Regions from separate parts of the Homo sapiens genome. Here region 2 is linked to region 1. Evidence: fine-mapped expression QTL. A gene starts in region 1. The other region holds a variant in brackets. All regions are shown on one strand. Distances are from middle to middle. Region 1 holds the start of SLC11A1 (solute carrier family 11 member 1). Region 2 holds the start of MIR6810 (microRNA 6810).

What was found. PIP is the estimated chance that this variant, and not a neighbour inherited with it, causes the effect.
Region 2: its variant is fine-mapped to the expression of SLC11A1 in whole blood (TOPMed, PIP above 0.99).

Annotation. Positions count from the first base shown.
Region 1 is chr2:218,378,256-218,386,578 of GRCh38, forward strand. It overlaps SLC11A1 (solute carrier family 11 member 1), which reads left to right and starts at 4,018. Exons shown (of 15, transcript NM_000578.4): 1 at 4,018-4,120; 2 at 4,705-4,847; 3 at 5,988-6,110; 4 at 6,892-7,011. The coding sequence starts at 4,114.
Region 2 is chr2:218,339,148-218,347,470 of GRCh38, forward strand. PNKD (PNKD metallo-beta-lactamase domain containing) reads left to right here. Exons shown (of 10, transcript NM_015488.5): 3 at 636-751; 4 at 882-994; 5 at 1,581-1,639; 6 at 2,387-2,479; 7 at 2,834-2,997; 8 at 4,353-4,439; 9 at 5,308-5,423; 10 at 5,661-7,646. The coding sequence ends at 5,834. The region is part of intron 2 of CATIP-AS2 (CATIP antisense RNA 2); the gene reads right to left. It overlaps MIR6810 (microRNA 6810), which reads left to right and starts at 2,764; the gene lies at 2,764-2,833. RefSeq lists an enhancer at 4,371-4,870. The variant G/A (reference allele first, on the strand shown) is at 4,010.

The DNA.
Region 1 (8,323 bases):
ATAGGATTGCACAGTGAGTGACAAGCCATGATGCTGCTGTCTCCTCTCTGGACCCATCATTCATCCCTCTTCCCACACCTCTCTAGTTCCTCCAGCCTCGTCCATCAATGAGGAGCCAGAAAATTGGCTGCCTCTCCCACCCTAGCCTCCCAAACTTCATCTAAGTTTTTGACGGGGTCAGGCACGGTGGCTCAAGCCTGTAATCCCAGCACTTTGGGAGGCTGAGGCAGGCGGATCACTTCAGCCCAGGAGTTCGAGACCAGCGTAGGCAACATGGCAAAACCCTGCCTCTACAAAAAATACAAAAATTAGCCAGTCTTGGTGGCATGCACCTGTAGTCCCAGCTACTCGGGAGGCTGAGCATGGGAGTTCAAGGCTACGGTACTGCACTCTAGACTGGGTGACAGAGTGAGACTCTGTCTCAAAAAAAAAATAGTTTTTGACTCAACATGGGGATAAATTATAACCCAGGTCAATTCTGGGCCTGTAAACCTCTCTAGAAGGAAAAACTCTCTTTCTCTACTCTCAACAGTTCTAACACCAAATGTGTGAATTTTCCACACCAGCAAAATTATCCAATTCTCTGTGGACAACAACTGGGTTTCCTACAATTAACTCAATTCTGACATGAACTACCTGGAGCCAGCACAGGCCCCACAGGTGAAGAGCTCAGTCCCACAAGACTGCCCCCACTTCAGGTGCCAGTTGCAGGTAGTGGGTTCCCAGATTACCCACTCTCCTCTCCAATTTAGCTACAAACAGGAGGTCCCTATGACCCTCAGGTTTGGTAACTTGTAGCTCATAGAACTCAAAGAAACACTTTGCTCTTTCTGGTTTATTATTAAGGATACACCCAAGAACAGCCTAATGGACAAGGGATGGAGGGAGTGCCCAGAGCTTTTCTGCCCTTTCCAGACATGCCACCCTCCCCGAATCTCAACGTGTTCACCAACCCGGAAGCTCCCTGAAACCCACAATTTAGGATTTACATGGAGGTTCCATTATGTAGGCATGAGTGATTAAATCATTGGCCATTGGCCAAGCCTGGGGGCCTGTAATCCTCGTGACTCTGTATCCTGGCAATTTGAGAGGCTGAGATGGGAAGATCACCAGAGGCCAGGAGTTCAAGACCAGCCTGGGCAACATAGTGAGACCTGTCTCTAAAAAATTTAGAAAGAAAAAGTAAAATAAAAAATCAGCCAGGTGCAGTGGTTCATGCCTGTAATCCCAGCACTTTGGGAGGTTGAGGTGGGTGGATCACTTGAGTGGGACTGCAGGTGAGTACCACCATGCCCGGCTAATTTTATTTTTTGTAGAGACAAGGTTTCACTATGTTGCCCACGCTGGTCTCAAACTCCTGGACTCAAACAATCCTCCCACCTCAGCCTCCCAAAGTGCTAGGATTAACAGGAGTGAGCCACCACTCACTCCAGTGGGCATGAGTCAAGCTGGATTTCATAGTATTTTCTTGTTTTTTTTGTTTGTTTGTTTGTTTTTGTTGTTGTTTTTTGTGGTGGGGGGTGAGACAGAGTCTTGCTCTGTCTCCCAGGCTGGAGTGCAGTGGCTTGATCTCAGCTCACTGAAACCTCTGCTTCCTGGGTTCCAGCAATTCTCCTGCCTCAGCCTCCAGAGTAGCTGAGATTACAGGCATGTGCCACCACGCCCAGTTAATTTTTTGTATTTTTAGTAGAGACGGGGTTTCACTATGTTGTCCAGGCTGGTCTCGAACTCCTGACCTCAAGTGATCTGCCCGCCTCGGCCTCCCAAAGTTCTGGGATGACAGCGTGAGCCACCACACCCGGCCTCTTTTTCTTTCTTTCATTTTTTTCTCCCTTCCCATGCAGTTTTTCTTACTCCCAACCTCTCTCATAGTTTATCTTACCTGCTTGCCATCCTTGGGCAGCTACATTTTTGACCTCTTAGCCAGTTTGAGTCTTTCTTTTTTTTTTTTTTTCACTCAGTCTCACTCTGTCACCAAAGCTGAAGTGCAGGGGCATGATCACGGCTCACTGATCATGCCAGCCCCAACCTCCTGGGCTCAAGCAAACCTCCCACCTCAGCCCTGCCCCAAGTAATGGAGACTACAGGTGTGGGCCATCACTCCCAGCAAATTTTTTTTTTTTGAGACGGAGTCTCGCTCTGTCACCCAGGCTGGAGTGCAGTGGCGCGATCTCGGCTCTCTGCAAGCTCCACCTCCCGGGTTCACACCATTCTCCTGCCTCAGCCTCCTGAGTAGCTGGGACTACAGGAGCCCGCCACCACGCCCGGCTAATTGTTTTTTGTTTGTTTGTTTGTTTATTGGGTTTTTTTTTGTATTTTTAGTAGAGACAGGGTTTCACCATGTTAACCAGGATGGTCTCGATCTCCTGACCTCGTGATCCACCCTCCTCAGCCTCCCAAAGTGCTGGGATTACAGGCATGAGCCACCACACCCGGTCATGCCCAGCTAATTTTTAAATTTTTTGTAGAGATGAGATCTCACTATGTTGCCCAGGCTGGTCTCAAACTCCTGTGAGCCCCTCAGTTAATAGAAGAAACAGTCAAGCATGGTGGCATAGGTCTGTATTCCCAGCTACCCGAGAGGCTGAGAAGGGAGGCTCTCTTGAGCTCAAGAGTTTAAGGCTATATGCCAGGCATGGTGGCTCACACCTGTAATCCCAGCACTTTGGGAGGTTGAGGTGGGTGGATCACTTGAGACCAGGAGTTCGAGACCAGCCTGGCCAACATAGTGAAACCCCGTCTCTACTAAAAAAAATACAAAAATTGGCTGGGCACAGTGGCTCACACCTGTAATCCCAGCACTTTGGGAGACTGAGGCGGGCGGATCACAAGGTCAGGAGTTTGAGACCAGCCTGGCCAACATGGTGAAATCCCATCTCTACTAAAAATACAAAAATTAGCCAGGTGTGGTTGGCAGGTGCCTGTAATCCCAGCTACTCAGGAGGCTGAGGAAGAAGAATTACTTGAACCCAAGAGGCAGAGGTTTCGGTGAGCCAAGGTCGCGCCATTGCACTTCAGCCTGGGTGACAGAGCAAGACGCCATCTCAAAGTAAATAAATACATACATACATACATACATACAAAAAGTAGCCGGGTGTGGTGGTGCATGCCTGTAGTCCCAGCTACTCAGGAGGCTGAGGCAGGAGAATTGCTTAAACATGGAGGACAGAGGTTGCAGTGAGCTGAGATTATGCCACTGCACTCCAGTCTGGGCAACAGAGTAAGACTCTGTCTCAAAAAAAAAAAAAAAAGGAGTTTGAGGCTGCAGTAAACTAAGATGGCACCACTGCACTTCACACCTCACTCTAGCCTGGGTGACAGAGCGAGACCTTGTCTCTAAAAAAAAAAACAAAAAACGAAAAACCAAAAAAAAAAAGGGTGGGGGTGGAATAGAATAAACAACTCTGAGAAGGGACATGATCTGGTGACAATCTCAAGTGAATCAGTGGTTGAACCAGGACCAGATCCCAGTGCCCCATCTTCTGGGGACGTCCTGGGTCTGAATCTTCAATGCATGTCCCTTCTGCAGTGCCTTCCTCTGTGGCCCTCAAAGGGAAACTGAAGCCTTTGAGGACATGAAGACTCGCATTAGGCCAACGAGGGGTCTTGGAACTCCAGATCAAAGAGAATAAGAAAGACCTGACTCTGTGTGTGTGTACGTGTGTGTGTACGTGTGTGTGTGTGTGTGTGGCAGAGGGGGGTGTGGTCATGGGGTATTGACATGAATACGCAAGGGGCAGGAAGCATCTGAAATCAGAGCTAACTTGGGAGGCACAGAACACGGGGTGCCTGGAAGGGGAACAGATGTGTTGTGGGGCACAGGGCAGGCTGGGAGGGGAACAAAGGTCCACTCCATGGGTAACCAGACCCTTCCGCCAGGGCTGGCCACTTCTGCCTTTGGAAAATGTTTCACAACGCCCCATGTTGTGTGTGTGTGTGAATCGGCCGATGTGAACCGAATGTTGATGTAAGAGGCAGGGCACTCGGCTGCGGATGGGTAACAGGGCGTGGGCTGGCACACTTACTTGCACCAGTGCCCAGAGAGGGGGTGCAGGCTGAGGAGCTGCCCAGAGCACCGCTCACACTCCCAGAGTACCTGAAGTCGGCATTTCAATGACAGGTGAGTAGTGGCCCCTAGGGACAGAGCCTGATTGGGGGGTGGAGTGGAGGAGATCACTAGGCTGGTGGAGACTTGAGGAAGCAAGAAAGCCCTTGGTCCCCTGTGGAAGCCTCTGGTCCCCCGTGGGAGTCCTAGTCTAGAACACAGTTCTGGACACCAGACTCAATCTCACTGGGTGGAGTCCTTCACACCCCTAAGCGGTCTACCTTTCCTTTGTCTGAAGTCCGTGGATCAAAGCCCCTGGAGCTTTCTGGGCTGCCGGAGAAGGTGAGGGGTCCAGCCAAGGGGCAGACATGTGGCCTCAGCTTGCCCTTCTTAGAGCCTAGGGTCTCTCTGCATTCTCTGTGGCAGGAGATCTGCCTCTGGGCATCTGTCCTCACATGAGAGGACAGTAATTCTGAAGCTGCCATGTCCCACACATCTGGAATGTTTGTTTGAGAGGTGGAGGTGATGGACCCAAGATGGGGGCCAGGGACCTTAGTTTCTCCACTTTTCCGGGAGGAGGAGGGAAAGGATCAGGCGGCTTTAACTCTGGGCCACCAGAAAGAGGCAGGACACTCACCATGCTTCATGGGCCCCCACAGGTGACAAGGGTCCCCAAAGGCTAAGCGGGTCCAGCTATGGTTCCATCTCCAGCCCGACCAGCCCGACCAGCCCAGGGCCACAGCAAGCACCTCCCAGAGAGACCTACCTGAGTGAGAAGATCCCCATCCCAGACACAAAACCGGTGGGATGCTGGAAACTTCCTGGGGGCTTGCAAGATTGACAGGATCCTGAAGGATCCCATGGGCTGGAGAATGGGGTCTCCTTATGATCATGGGTGGCAAGTCCCTTCCAGGTCTGAGCAGCAGTGGTGGACAGTGGCAACTGCCCCTTCCTGCTTCCGTCCCCAGTGCTTAGCTGGGGTGCTTCAGTATTTGTCTAAAAGCGATTAAATGACTTTCTCAATGAATCTCAGCTTTCCTATGAAGGAAAAGAGGCCCAGGGGGAATTGGGATTGGAGCCTTGAGGACATGTTATAGCATTTAGGAAAGGGCATAGGGAGAAGTGAAGGAGGCTGCAGGCTGGCATCTAGCATCTAGGATGCTGTCACCTGCATTTCCAGTATCTTCTCTTTTTTTGGAGATGGAGTCTCGCTCTGTAGCCCAGGCTGGAGTGCAGTGGCGCGATCTCAGCTCACTGCAACCTCCGCTTCCCAAGTTTAAGCGATTCTCCTGCCCCGGCCTCCCGAGTAGCTGGGATTACAGGCATGCACCACCATGCCAGGCTAATTTTTGTATTTTTACTAGAGACAGGGTTTCACCATGTTGGCCAGGCTGGTCTCAAACTCCTTAGCTCAAGTGATCCACCCACCTCGGCCTTCCAAAGTGCTGGGATTACAGACACGAGCCAACGCTCCCAGCCTCCAATATCTTCAGCAGATTTCTAAGTCAATATGCCATGCTCTGGAACAGGGTGGGGGGACCATAGCCTCAGCGGACCACAGAGAGGAGGCCCCGTGGTCTGAAAAGGAGCTGGCAAGGGAGGAGCTGGGCTAGGGAAGCTTGGCCCCCTCACCCCCTTAGACAGCCCCCTGTGAGGTCTCTGAGGACCTGACAAGTCAGGGCTTGAGGGGCAGGCAGTTCAGGTGCAAGCCGGCTGCTGAGCTTAACAGATCCAGAAAAAGATCCTCTGTGACTCATCAGAGCATGCTGCTTCCTCCACCCATGCCCTCCCCATCCCTTGGGTGGCAGACCCAGGAATGGGCCATGGAGGGCAGGGCTGGGCTGATGAGCCTGTTGGGGCTCCTCTAGGGGATGGCCAAGGCCAGCTGCCACCATCCCTATACCCAGGACCCCCTCACTCTACTCCTCCCACCCCCCAACAGGGCACCTTCAGCCTGCGGAAGCTATGGGCCTTCACGGGGCCTGGCTTCCTCATGAGCATTGCTTTCCTGGACCCAGGAAACATCGAGTCAGATCTTCAGGCTGGCGCCGTGGCGGGATTCAAAGTAACTAAGTCGGGACCTGAGTGGGGACACTTTCGAGAGGGAGGTGACCAGGCTAAGTGTTGAAGGCCCCTGCTGGCCATGTTTCTCCAATGTGGCCTGGGAGCTGGTGTTAAGTTCAAATGGGCCCGAAAAGGGTCCCCAGGGCAGCCCTGCCAGAAGGTGGGGCATTTGTGTGGGGGGTAGGGGACTGGACTCCTCTCTTTAAAATATATATATGTATATTTATTTATTTATTTATTTAATTTTATTTTTTGAGACTCAGTCTCACTCGGTCACCCAGGCTGGAGTGCAGTGGCACAATCTCGGCTCACTGCAACCTCTGCCTCCCGGGTTCAAGTGATTCTCCTGCCTCAGCCTCCTGAGTAGTGCATGCCACCACGCCTGGCTAATTTTTGTATTTTTAGTAGAGATGGGGTTTCACTGTGTGGGCCAGGCTGGTCTTGAACTCCTGACCTCAAGTGATCCACCGCCTCGGCCTCCCAAAGTGCTGGGATAACAGGTGTGAGCCACCTTGCCTGGCGTAATTTATTTATTTATTTAGAGATGGGGGTCTCACTATGTTGCTCAGGCTGCTCTTGAACTCCTGGACTCAAGCAATCCTCCCACCTTAGCCTTTTAAAGTGCTGGGATTACAGGGTGAGCTACCAGCGCCCAGCCAGGATGGGACTCCATCTCTCCCACCCCCTCCCCGAGGAGTATGCTTGGTTAGAGGGTACCACGAGCTCAGGGGCTTTCTGAGGCTGGCCTCTCTGGCTGAAGGCCTCTCCCTGCCTCCTCACAGCTTCTCTGGGTGCTGCTCTGGGCCACCGTGTTGGGCTTGCTCTGCCAGCGACTGGCTGCACGTCTGGGCGTGGTGACAGGCAAGGACTTGGGCGAGGTCTGCCATCTCTACTACCCTAAGGTGAGCTTGGGGGGCCTGGACAGGGAGAACCACTGGCCCCAAACCCCAAACAGCCATTTTCAGCTTCCACGATCAAATAAATACATCATCTCACATGGGGCATCCCAAGTCTGTTTGTTTTTGTTGTTGTTTGTTTGTTTTTCAGTCGGAGTCTCGCTCCGTCGCCCAGTCAGGAGTGCAATGGTGCGATGTCAGCTCACTGCAACCTCTACCTCCCAGGTACAAGTGATTCTCCTGACTCAGCCTCTCAAGTAGCTGGGATTACAGGCGCCCACCACCATCATCGGCTAATTTTTGTATTTTTAGTAGAGCTGGGGTTTCACCATGTTGGCCAGGCTGGTCTCAAACTCCTGACCTCAGATGATCCACCCACCTCAGTCTCCCAAAGTGCTGGGATTACAGGCATGAGCCACTGCATCCGGCCCCAATTCCATTTGATAGATGGAAAGACTGAGGCTCAAACTGATAGCACATAGCCTAGAGGGACATGAGAGGCATGTCATTTCACAGAAGGGGTAATTAAAATTTGGGAAAGAGACTTGCCCAAGACAAAAAATGGGGAGGCATCAGCTCAGGAATGGTCACTGGTTGGGGTGGACCCTGGGGACTTCGTTGTTGTGAGTGTCCAGTTTGGAAAACAGAAATTACAGCACTGGACATTTCAAAGGTATTGAATGCAGGGATTGAAAGGTTTGGGAGGGCTTGAGGGGCAAGGGAAGAGGGTGTTACAAAAAGATCAGAAAGCTGCTACACCTCTGGCACAAGCCCCAGAGCCATCCTTTGCTGCTGAGCTCCTGGAAGCATTATTGATGCTGATGAAATGGCCACTAGTGCTGCCAGAGTCCGGGTTGCCTGGTGCCACTGCCAGAAATACAAGAAGCAGGGGGAGAAAATGGTTTATCTCAGCCTGGGGCGGTGGCTCACGCCTGTAATCCCAGCACTTTGGGAGGCCAAGGCGGGTGGATCACCTGAGGTCGGGAGTTCGAGACCAGCCTGACCAACATGGAGAAACCCCGTCTCTACTAAAAATACAAAACTAGCCGGGCATGGTGGCACATGCCTGTAATCCCAGCTACTCGGGAGGCTGAGGCAGGAGAATCGCTTGAACACGGGAGGCGGAGATTGTGGTGAGCCGAGATCATGCCATTGCACTCCAGCCTGGGCAACAAGAGCAAAACTCTATTTCGAAAAAAAAAAAAAAAGTTTATCTCTGCCTTTCCATCTCCTGTATGCTCTTCCTACATAAGGTAGGAAGCCCATTGGCCAGACTGTCTAGTAAATGTAGTCTGAGACGACAGACAAATGTAGTCTG
Region 2 (8,323 bases), 39 kb before region 1:
GAAATATTTTTTCTACCTCATTTCAGCCTCCTAATTCCTACTCCTTCTTCCCTGCAAATGTCACTTCATCAGAGGTGCTAGACCCTGGGCTAGATTAAACCCCTCACTCTCCAAGTCTCTCTTTTTTTTTAGACAGAGTCTCACTCTTTGGCCTGGGCTGCAGTGCAGTGGTGCGATGCCCAATTCTCCTGCCTCAGCCTCCTGAGTAGCTGGGACTACAAGCGTGTGCCACCACACCCGACTAAGTTTTGTATTTTTAGTAGAGACAGGGTTTCGCCATGTTAGTCAGGCTGGTCTCGAACTCCTGACCTCAGGTGATCCGCCCACCTCGGCCTCCCAAAGTTCTGGGATTACAGGTGTGAGCCACTGCGCCTGGCCTCTCCAATTTTCTTCTGTGAGTTCCTCAGTTCATGTCTCCCTGATAGATTTTGAGTTCTAGGTGTGTCCGTCTCATTCTCCATCTTGTCCTGAGTGCTAAGCAGGGCAAACAGTAGGCACATAATAAGTGAGAGTGGAATTGCATTGGCTCACAGGGTCACCAAAGGAATGGAGATGTGGGGCCTGCAGGCATCACGAAGGAGTCTAGGGGAGCTAGGGAGAAAAGGCTAATCATAGGCCACCCACTCGCCCTCTAGGTACAGCCTGTACACCCGCACCTGGCTCGGGTACCTCTTCTACCGACAGCAGCTGCGCAGGGCTCGGAATCGCTACCCTAAAGGCCACTCGAAAACCCAGCCCCGCCTCTTCAATGGTGAGCTCTGACTGCCCCGGCCAGCATCCCCCATTCTGTGCCCCCACCCTCCCCGCCTGCTCCCCTTCACATACCCCAGCCCCTGGGCTCCCTGCCTGTTACCCCGCCCACAGCCCATCTCTGTCCCCAGGAGTGAAGGTGCTTCCCATCCCTGTCCTCTCGGACAACTACAGCTACCTCATCATCGACACCCAGGCCCAGCTGGCTGTGGCTGTGGACCCTTCAGACCCTCGGGCTGTGCAGGTGAGGGGAGGGCAGGGAGCAGGGGGTGCCTGGAGTCACCTTGGGGACTGGCAGTTTCGCCTTGCTAGAGAGGGCTGACCCTTGTCCGTCTGCCCGTGGGATGTGTCCCATATGCTCCATGTTCACACGTGCACATGCGCACACATAGCCTGGGGAAGGGGGGTACAGGGCATGGCTGGGCAGAAGGGGAGAGCAGGAGTGGGGGATGCAGAGCCAGAGGGCTGGGGGTGTTGGCCCAGGACTCTGGGTCTAGTGAGTTTCCAGGCTGGCTTTCACTCCCATTGGCCCCCTTCAGACCCCCTTTCTTTCTGTCACCTCTGTCTGTCAGTATCTGGGTCTCTCTGTCTTTCCCTCCCATTCCTTATCTCTCTGTGTCTGCCTCTCTCTATGTACAAGTGTCCCTCTGCCTCCATGTGCCCCGTGCTTCACATTCCTGGATCTCTCCCCTCCAGCTCCATCCCTTTCCTCTGCTTCATCTCTCCATGCTCTCCTCTCCTCTCCACCAGCGCCCACACTCCTGGCTCTTGCTGCTTCAAGTGCCTCTTGCATCCTGCTCCCCAGTCTCCAAACCTCCTCTCTCTCGCAGGCTTCCATTGAAAAGGAAGGGGTCACCTTGGTCGCCATTCTGTGTACTCACAAGCACTGGTAAGGGGCTCCCGTCTTCCCTGGCCCACCCTTGTCCCAGCTGGGCTTGCCAGGACTGGGCCCATTGAGGACGGCCGGGGCCAGAGATCAAGAAGTCAGTACGGGCCGGCACCCGCCTTCCTCGTGAAGTCACCTGGACACCAGCAGGGAGGGAGGAGAGGGGACAGTCTCCCACCACTCCATTGATCAAGCTTCTGAAGCCCCAGAGGGCAGGGCAGTCATTTCTCTTTCATTTCATGGGCATGTATTAGATACCTACTGCACACTGGGCATGGACAAAAGTTATGACTCTTCCATCAAGGAAATTCTAAGACCAATAGGGGAGGTAGCCCTGTATCAAAGTATATAACAGCGGAGGCAAGAGGGTTGGGAGTTCAAGCCCAACCTGGGCAACATAGTGAGACCTTGTCTTCAAAAAAGAAGTATGTGATATTTAGGTAACAGTTGGCACAGGGAACAGGGATGGGAGGCCCAGGCACGGTGTGATCAGATCCACTTGGAGAATTGAAAGATGATGACCTGAGCTGAGGGTTCAGGAAGCTCGGCTGGCATTGGCCAGCTTGAGTTGTTGGGGGCGATGTTCTGGGCAAGGGAACAGCTTGAACAAAGGCCTAGAGGTGTGGACAACTTGGCTTAGTCCAGAAGCCACAGCCCCAGCACTTAAAGGCCTGGAGATGCTGTGGTAAAGAAGGGGGCTTAGGTACAGTTGCCCCTCGAAGCCCCCTGCCTGTCTCTGCTGTCCTGCAGGGACCACAGTGGAGGGAACCGTGACCTCAGCCGGCGGCACCGGGACTGTCGGGTGTACGGGAGCCCTCAGGACGGCATCCCCTACCTCACCCAGTAAGTCCCTGACCTAGGCAAGGGATGGCCCTTCCATGGGCCCTTTCCCCCACCCCCAGCCTTCAGTGAAGTGTTTCAGGGGTATCAGCAGGTGGATCTTTGCCAGTGCCCTTCCTGGCCCAATCCCAGCCTATCTGAAGACTGGCACTGCCCATCCCCCAACTGATCCAGCCATAGTCCCCAAAAGAGGAAAGGGGGAGGGTTCGGACCTGAGACCCGAGGCACTGGGGTGACTTCTTTTGTATGGAAGCCCACTCTCTTGTGAATCACCCAGCCCCTTGGGCCTGGGATGGGGACAGGGATCAGCATGGCACAGATCCAATACCTTCTGTCCCCTGCTCCCTTGTTCCCCAGTCCCCTGTGTCATCAAGATGTGGTCAGCGTGGGACGGCTTCAGATCCGGGCCCTGGCTACACCTGGCCACACACAAGGCCATCTGGTCTACCTACTGGATGGGGAGCCCTACAAGGGTCCCTCCTGCCTCTTCTCAGGGGACCTGCTCTTCCTCTCTGGCTGTGGTGAGTTTCCCCGAAAGAGAGAGGAGCTGGGAGAGGAGGGAGAGACAGAAGCCAGGGCAGCCACAGTCCCATGGAGAGCACTGAAGCCTTAGTTTTAGCACAGATGTTGCCGTGGCAGTTACTTCCATCTGTGTTACTCAGATTGGTTTTAATCCTTGAGACTTCCCTTGGGGCACCTTGGGAGGCTGAGGCAGGAGGATCACTTGAGGCTAGGAGTTGGAGACCAGACTGGGCAAAATAGCAAGACTGTCTCTACAAAAAAATTTTAAAATAGGCCAGGCGTGGTGGCTCATGCCTGTAATCCCAGCACTTTGGGAGGCTGAGGTGGGAGGATCACCTGAGGTCAGGAGTTCAAGACCAGCCTGGTCAACATGGTGAAACCCCGTCTCTACTAAAAATACAGAAATTAGCCGGGCATGGTGGTGCATGCCTGTAATCCCAGCTACTAGGGAGGCTGAGACAGGAGAACTGCTTGAACCCGAGAGGTAGAGGTTGCAGCGAGCTGAGATCGCGCCACTGCACTCCAACCTGGAAGACAGAGTGAGACTCTGTCACAAAACAGAAAAAAAAATTTAAATAATATAAATAATATAGGCCAGGAGCAGTGACTCAGGCCTGTAATCCCAGAACTCTGGGAGGCCAAAGCAAGTGGATTGCTTGAGCCCAGGAGTTCAAGACCAGCTTGGGCAACATGGTGAAACCCCGTCTCTACAAAAAATACAAAAATTAGCCAGTGTGGTGGTGAGCCCAGGAATTCAAGGTTGCAGTGAGCTATGATTGTGCCACTGCACTGCAGCCTGGGCAACAATGAGACTCTGTCTCAAAAATAAAAAAGACTTCTGCCAGCTGCGGGACAGAATGGGAGAATGTCTGTAGCTGAGTAAAGCCCTGCAGGGAATTAGTTTCCCCTGGGTGGAGACTGGTTCTCTGATACAGTGACTGGCAGGACTAGGTTATGAAAAGTTAAGAACAGCTAGGTGAGTGGGTGGGTGAGGATCACAAGTCCCAGGCT[G/A]CATGAAATCCCAAAGGGCAGCCTAGGCGAAGAAGTGTTCCGTGGGAAAGAGCAGCCCTGCGTCTACCAAGCCTGGGGCCTGCAGCCCGAAGATTCCACAGCCCCTCCCTTCAGGTGTCACTGTGTGCAACGGAGGCCTCGGATGGGCTTGGTCAGGGGGTGACCAGTTGGGCCCAGTTCCCAGTGAGGAGGGAATAGATGCCTGGGGTGGGTCTGGAAAGTGCACAGTCAGGGCTGACGGCCAGCCAGAGCATTACAAGCTGGTTCCCACCTGTCTGGGTGTGCCTTATGCCATATTGTGTTATCCTGGCACCTTGTGACATACCCTCCAACCCCCACCCAGGGCGGACCTTTGAGGGCAATGCAGAGACCATGCTGAGCTCACTGGACACTGTGCTGGGGCTAGGGGATGACACCCTTCTGTGGCCTGGTGAGACACCCCCTTACTACTCCCCATCCTCCAGCCCCACGCTCAGCCTGGGACAAGGGCCTTCCCACCCCCTCACTCCCCTAGAAAGCAGGCCAGCCCAGTTCCTGGCCCAGAAGCGACACAGCTCCACCTCTAGGGGTAGGGACAGAGTTCTGGCCTCCCTTCTTCCTGGAGTGCTGGCTCCGTACCACCTCTGCTTCTCACACTACCTTCCCCTGCCAGTCAGCCTTCAGCCTCTTGGGAGCCTTGCAGGCCCCAGGGCATTCCAGAGAGATGTCTAATTGTTCATAGCCTTAGCCCAGAACAGAAAATAGCCTTTGCTTATCTGGGGAGAAGTCAGTAAATCCACTCTGCATGTAACCATTGCCTTGTGGTGCATAAAAACATTCACAGATATCTGTTAATCCTCAGAACATATATTCATTCATTCATTCATTCATCAAGTACTTTATGTGCACCTAACACATACCAGGCTCTGTTCCAGGCACCAGGAACACAGCAGGTACATCTGTGTCTGGTGGCATCATTGTTCTCTCCACTTGCCAAATGAGAAAATTGTGCCTCAGAGAGGGGCCATGACTAGACCGAGGTCACATGCTAGGCTTGGTGGAGTCAGGGCTAGATGCAGGCCTGCCAGCTCCAGGTCTAGTGGTTTTTTCCCCTGGAACTATTGCCACCTTTTCACCCATGGCTGACTTGTGCCCACAGTTAGAGAAGCAGCTCCTGGCAGTTGGGGTTTTCCTGGAAGTGCTGACCTCATCCCTAGTTGTCAGGTGCCCATCAGCCTGGACCTGGGGCAGGGAAGACTGTTCTGACTGTACCACCAATCTCTCTCTGCTCTGTGTCTCACCCTCATGGCTGTCGGTAGGTCATGAGTATGCAGAGGAGAACCTGGGCTTTGCAGGTGTGGTGGAGCCCGAGAACCTGGCCCGGGAGAGGAAGATGCAGTGGGTGCAGCGGCAGCGGCTGGAGCGCAAGGGCACGGTGAGGGACTCGGGGTCCAGGAGGAGCTGTGTGGGCAGGCACTCAGCCCCAACGGGAACCCATCCATGCTGACCCCAGGCCTGCGAGCACCTCCCCAAAACTCTGACCTCTTTGGCCCATGGGCCCTCAAGTCAGAACTCCTGAACTCCAGGATGGGGCAGGGGTCGGGTCAGGCTTCTCTGTCTTGGGTCCATTTCCCAGCTTCTCTCCACCAAACCTGGTTCCTCTCACCCACAGTGCCCATCTACCCTGGGAGAGGAGCGCTCCTACAACCCGTTCCTGAGAACCCACTGCCTGGCGCTACAGGAGGCTCTGGGGCCGGGGCCGGGCCCCACTGGGGATGATGACTACTCCCGGGCCCAGCTCCTGGAAGAGCTCCGCCGGCTGAAGGATATGCACAAGAGCAAGTGATGCCCCCAGCGCCCCCAGCCCAGCCCACTCCCCGCATGGGGAGGCCGCCACCACCAACACCTCATCATCCTTCTCATCGCTAACACCACCACCTCCATCGGCACCCAAGCGGGCATCATCCCCCCACACTGCTCAGGGGAGGGGAGGGATCAGGCGATGAGACTGTGAGGCCAAAAGAAGGGGGCCTGTTGGAGGCTGGGAACCCCGCAGCGCGAGGCTGCCTCATCAACGGCAAGAGGAAAGGAGGGGTCTCGGGACATCTCCAGACCCTACCAACTGGGAGGGTCCCCTCCTCCTTCCCTACTCCTGGGACGGCAGCAAGGACATGGGGGCTGCTGTTAGCTTCTCCGTCAGGAGGCCTCATCTCACTGTAGCCCTGGAACCCAGGGTCCATCTTGCCCTTCCCCCATCCATGGTTGGGAAAGAAGCTCAGCCCCTCACAGTGGCCTCAAGTGTGATGCCTTACAAAAGCACCACTCAGATGGGCAGCTGGACTCTGGTGTCCTGAGACTCTGCCCTCTTCCCACAGCCTCCCTGCCCCACCCATCCCTGCAAAGCCATTTTTCAGACAGAGCCATTCCTAAGAACACTGAAGGGCTGGAATGCTGGCTGGCCACTCTCTGCCTCAGTGGCCTCCCTACAGCCTGGAAGAAGGAGGGTCCTGATTGCCAAGGAAACCTCCTCATTGGGCTAAGGAGACACTGGAGTCTGGAGTGTGGAGCCCCACAGTCTTGCAGGTCACATGCTCTCCTTGCACATCTGGCCTGGTTGTACCCACTGGCCTCTGCCTCTGCCCTGGGCCAAAAGGGCCCCTCCTTGCCAGGGGAGAGACAGCCACGGTCCTCTTTGGCCGATGCTGTATTCTCATTTTGGCCCTTGTTCTTAGGCCCGTCTGCCCGCCTTCCTCCATCTAACCTTTCCTGTTTTATCCGCAGCCCTTTTCTTCTTTGAGTTAGTAAAGATTTATTCTGTAACCTGACACTCATCTGGCCCTTTGCAGTTTGCCAGCCATATTCCCATGTGATTTCCCACTGGATCCAGGCCCCCATCCGGCTGGCAGGAGGGGGCTCTGACGTGCAGGTTGGAAATCAGAAGTCTGTGAGAGCGCGGGAGTGCATGGCAGCTCTGGGTCCCAGACCTGGCCCGACCCCTCTGCTTCACCTCCAGCTCTGCTGCTCCTCTACTCTTGGGTCGAGATCCCTTTGGAGCCACAGCGAGGAACCCTGTGGTCCTCAGGCAGGTGTACCTTGAGTCAGCCAGGAGCCCTCTTTTCCTGTGTCAAAGCCTGCCCTCGGGCTCTGCTCACCTCTGGTGACCCTCCAAGATGCCCCTGCCCTCAGTTTCCCCTCATGATCTGGCCTCTGCCCCCTTCTCTAGCCACAGCCTCTAGTACACTTTAGCAATACCACCAGACTAGTTAGAGTTCCCCACTCACCAAGCAAGACATGCAGTTTCATGCCTCTGTGCCTTCGCTCATGCTGTTTCTTCCGACTGGAATGCCTTCCCCTGCTCCTCCTGCCTTGTCTGCCTGGCAAGTTCATCTCTCACGATCCCCTCAAAGGCCCCCTCCTCCAGGAAGGCAACCCCTGTGCCCCTCCCCTCCAGGCTACCTCTGCACTTTGTCAATGCTTCTCTTGTGGCACTTATCACACTGTATTTTACTTGTTTACATGTTTGTCTCCCCTTCTAGACTGTGAATCCTTAAGGGCATGGACTGTATCTTATGCATCTCTGTATTTCTGCGCCTAGCACGGTGCCTAGCACACAGTAGGCGCTCAATAAATGTTGAATGAATGAATGATTTAATCAAGACTTGATCACCCAACAGCTTGTCTTTGTTGCTACATGAGTGAAAACAGCAGAGAACTTTCTCACAGTTTTCCCATCTCAGTTCCAGGCCTGCTAACTTGCAGTTAGGCACTTCAAGAGTTTTGATCAGAAATGATGCCCAAAGGCTGGGCGCAGTGGCTCACACCTATAATCCCAGCTCTTTAGGAGGCTGAGGCGGGTGGATCACAAGGTCAGGAGTTCGAGACCAGTCTGGCCAACATAGTGAAACCTCATCTGTACTACAAATACAAAAAATTAGCCAGACATAGTGGCAGGAGCCTATAATCCCAGCTACTCAGGAGGCTGAGGCAGGAGAATCACGTGAACCCAGGAGGCGGAGGTTGCAGTGAGCCGAGATCGCACCACTGCACTCCAGCCTGGGCGACAGAATGAGACTCTGTCTCAAAAAAAAAAAAAATTTTTTTAAAAAGAGAGAGAGAAATGATGCCTAAAATATGTTCTTCCCAAGGCCCATGGGCATTTGTTCAGGGTTTACGATTTGCTTATCTCAATGTTTCCCAAAGCTTGAGATACACAAGTGTACCACTGGCCAAAGTAGGGTGGCTGTACATGGCCACAGCACAGCAATCAATTGGACTTCAAGGACACGGTCTTGGCACTAGTCTGTCTTTAATGTCTTTGGAAAGAAAGACCCGGGA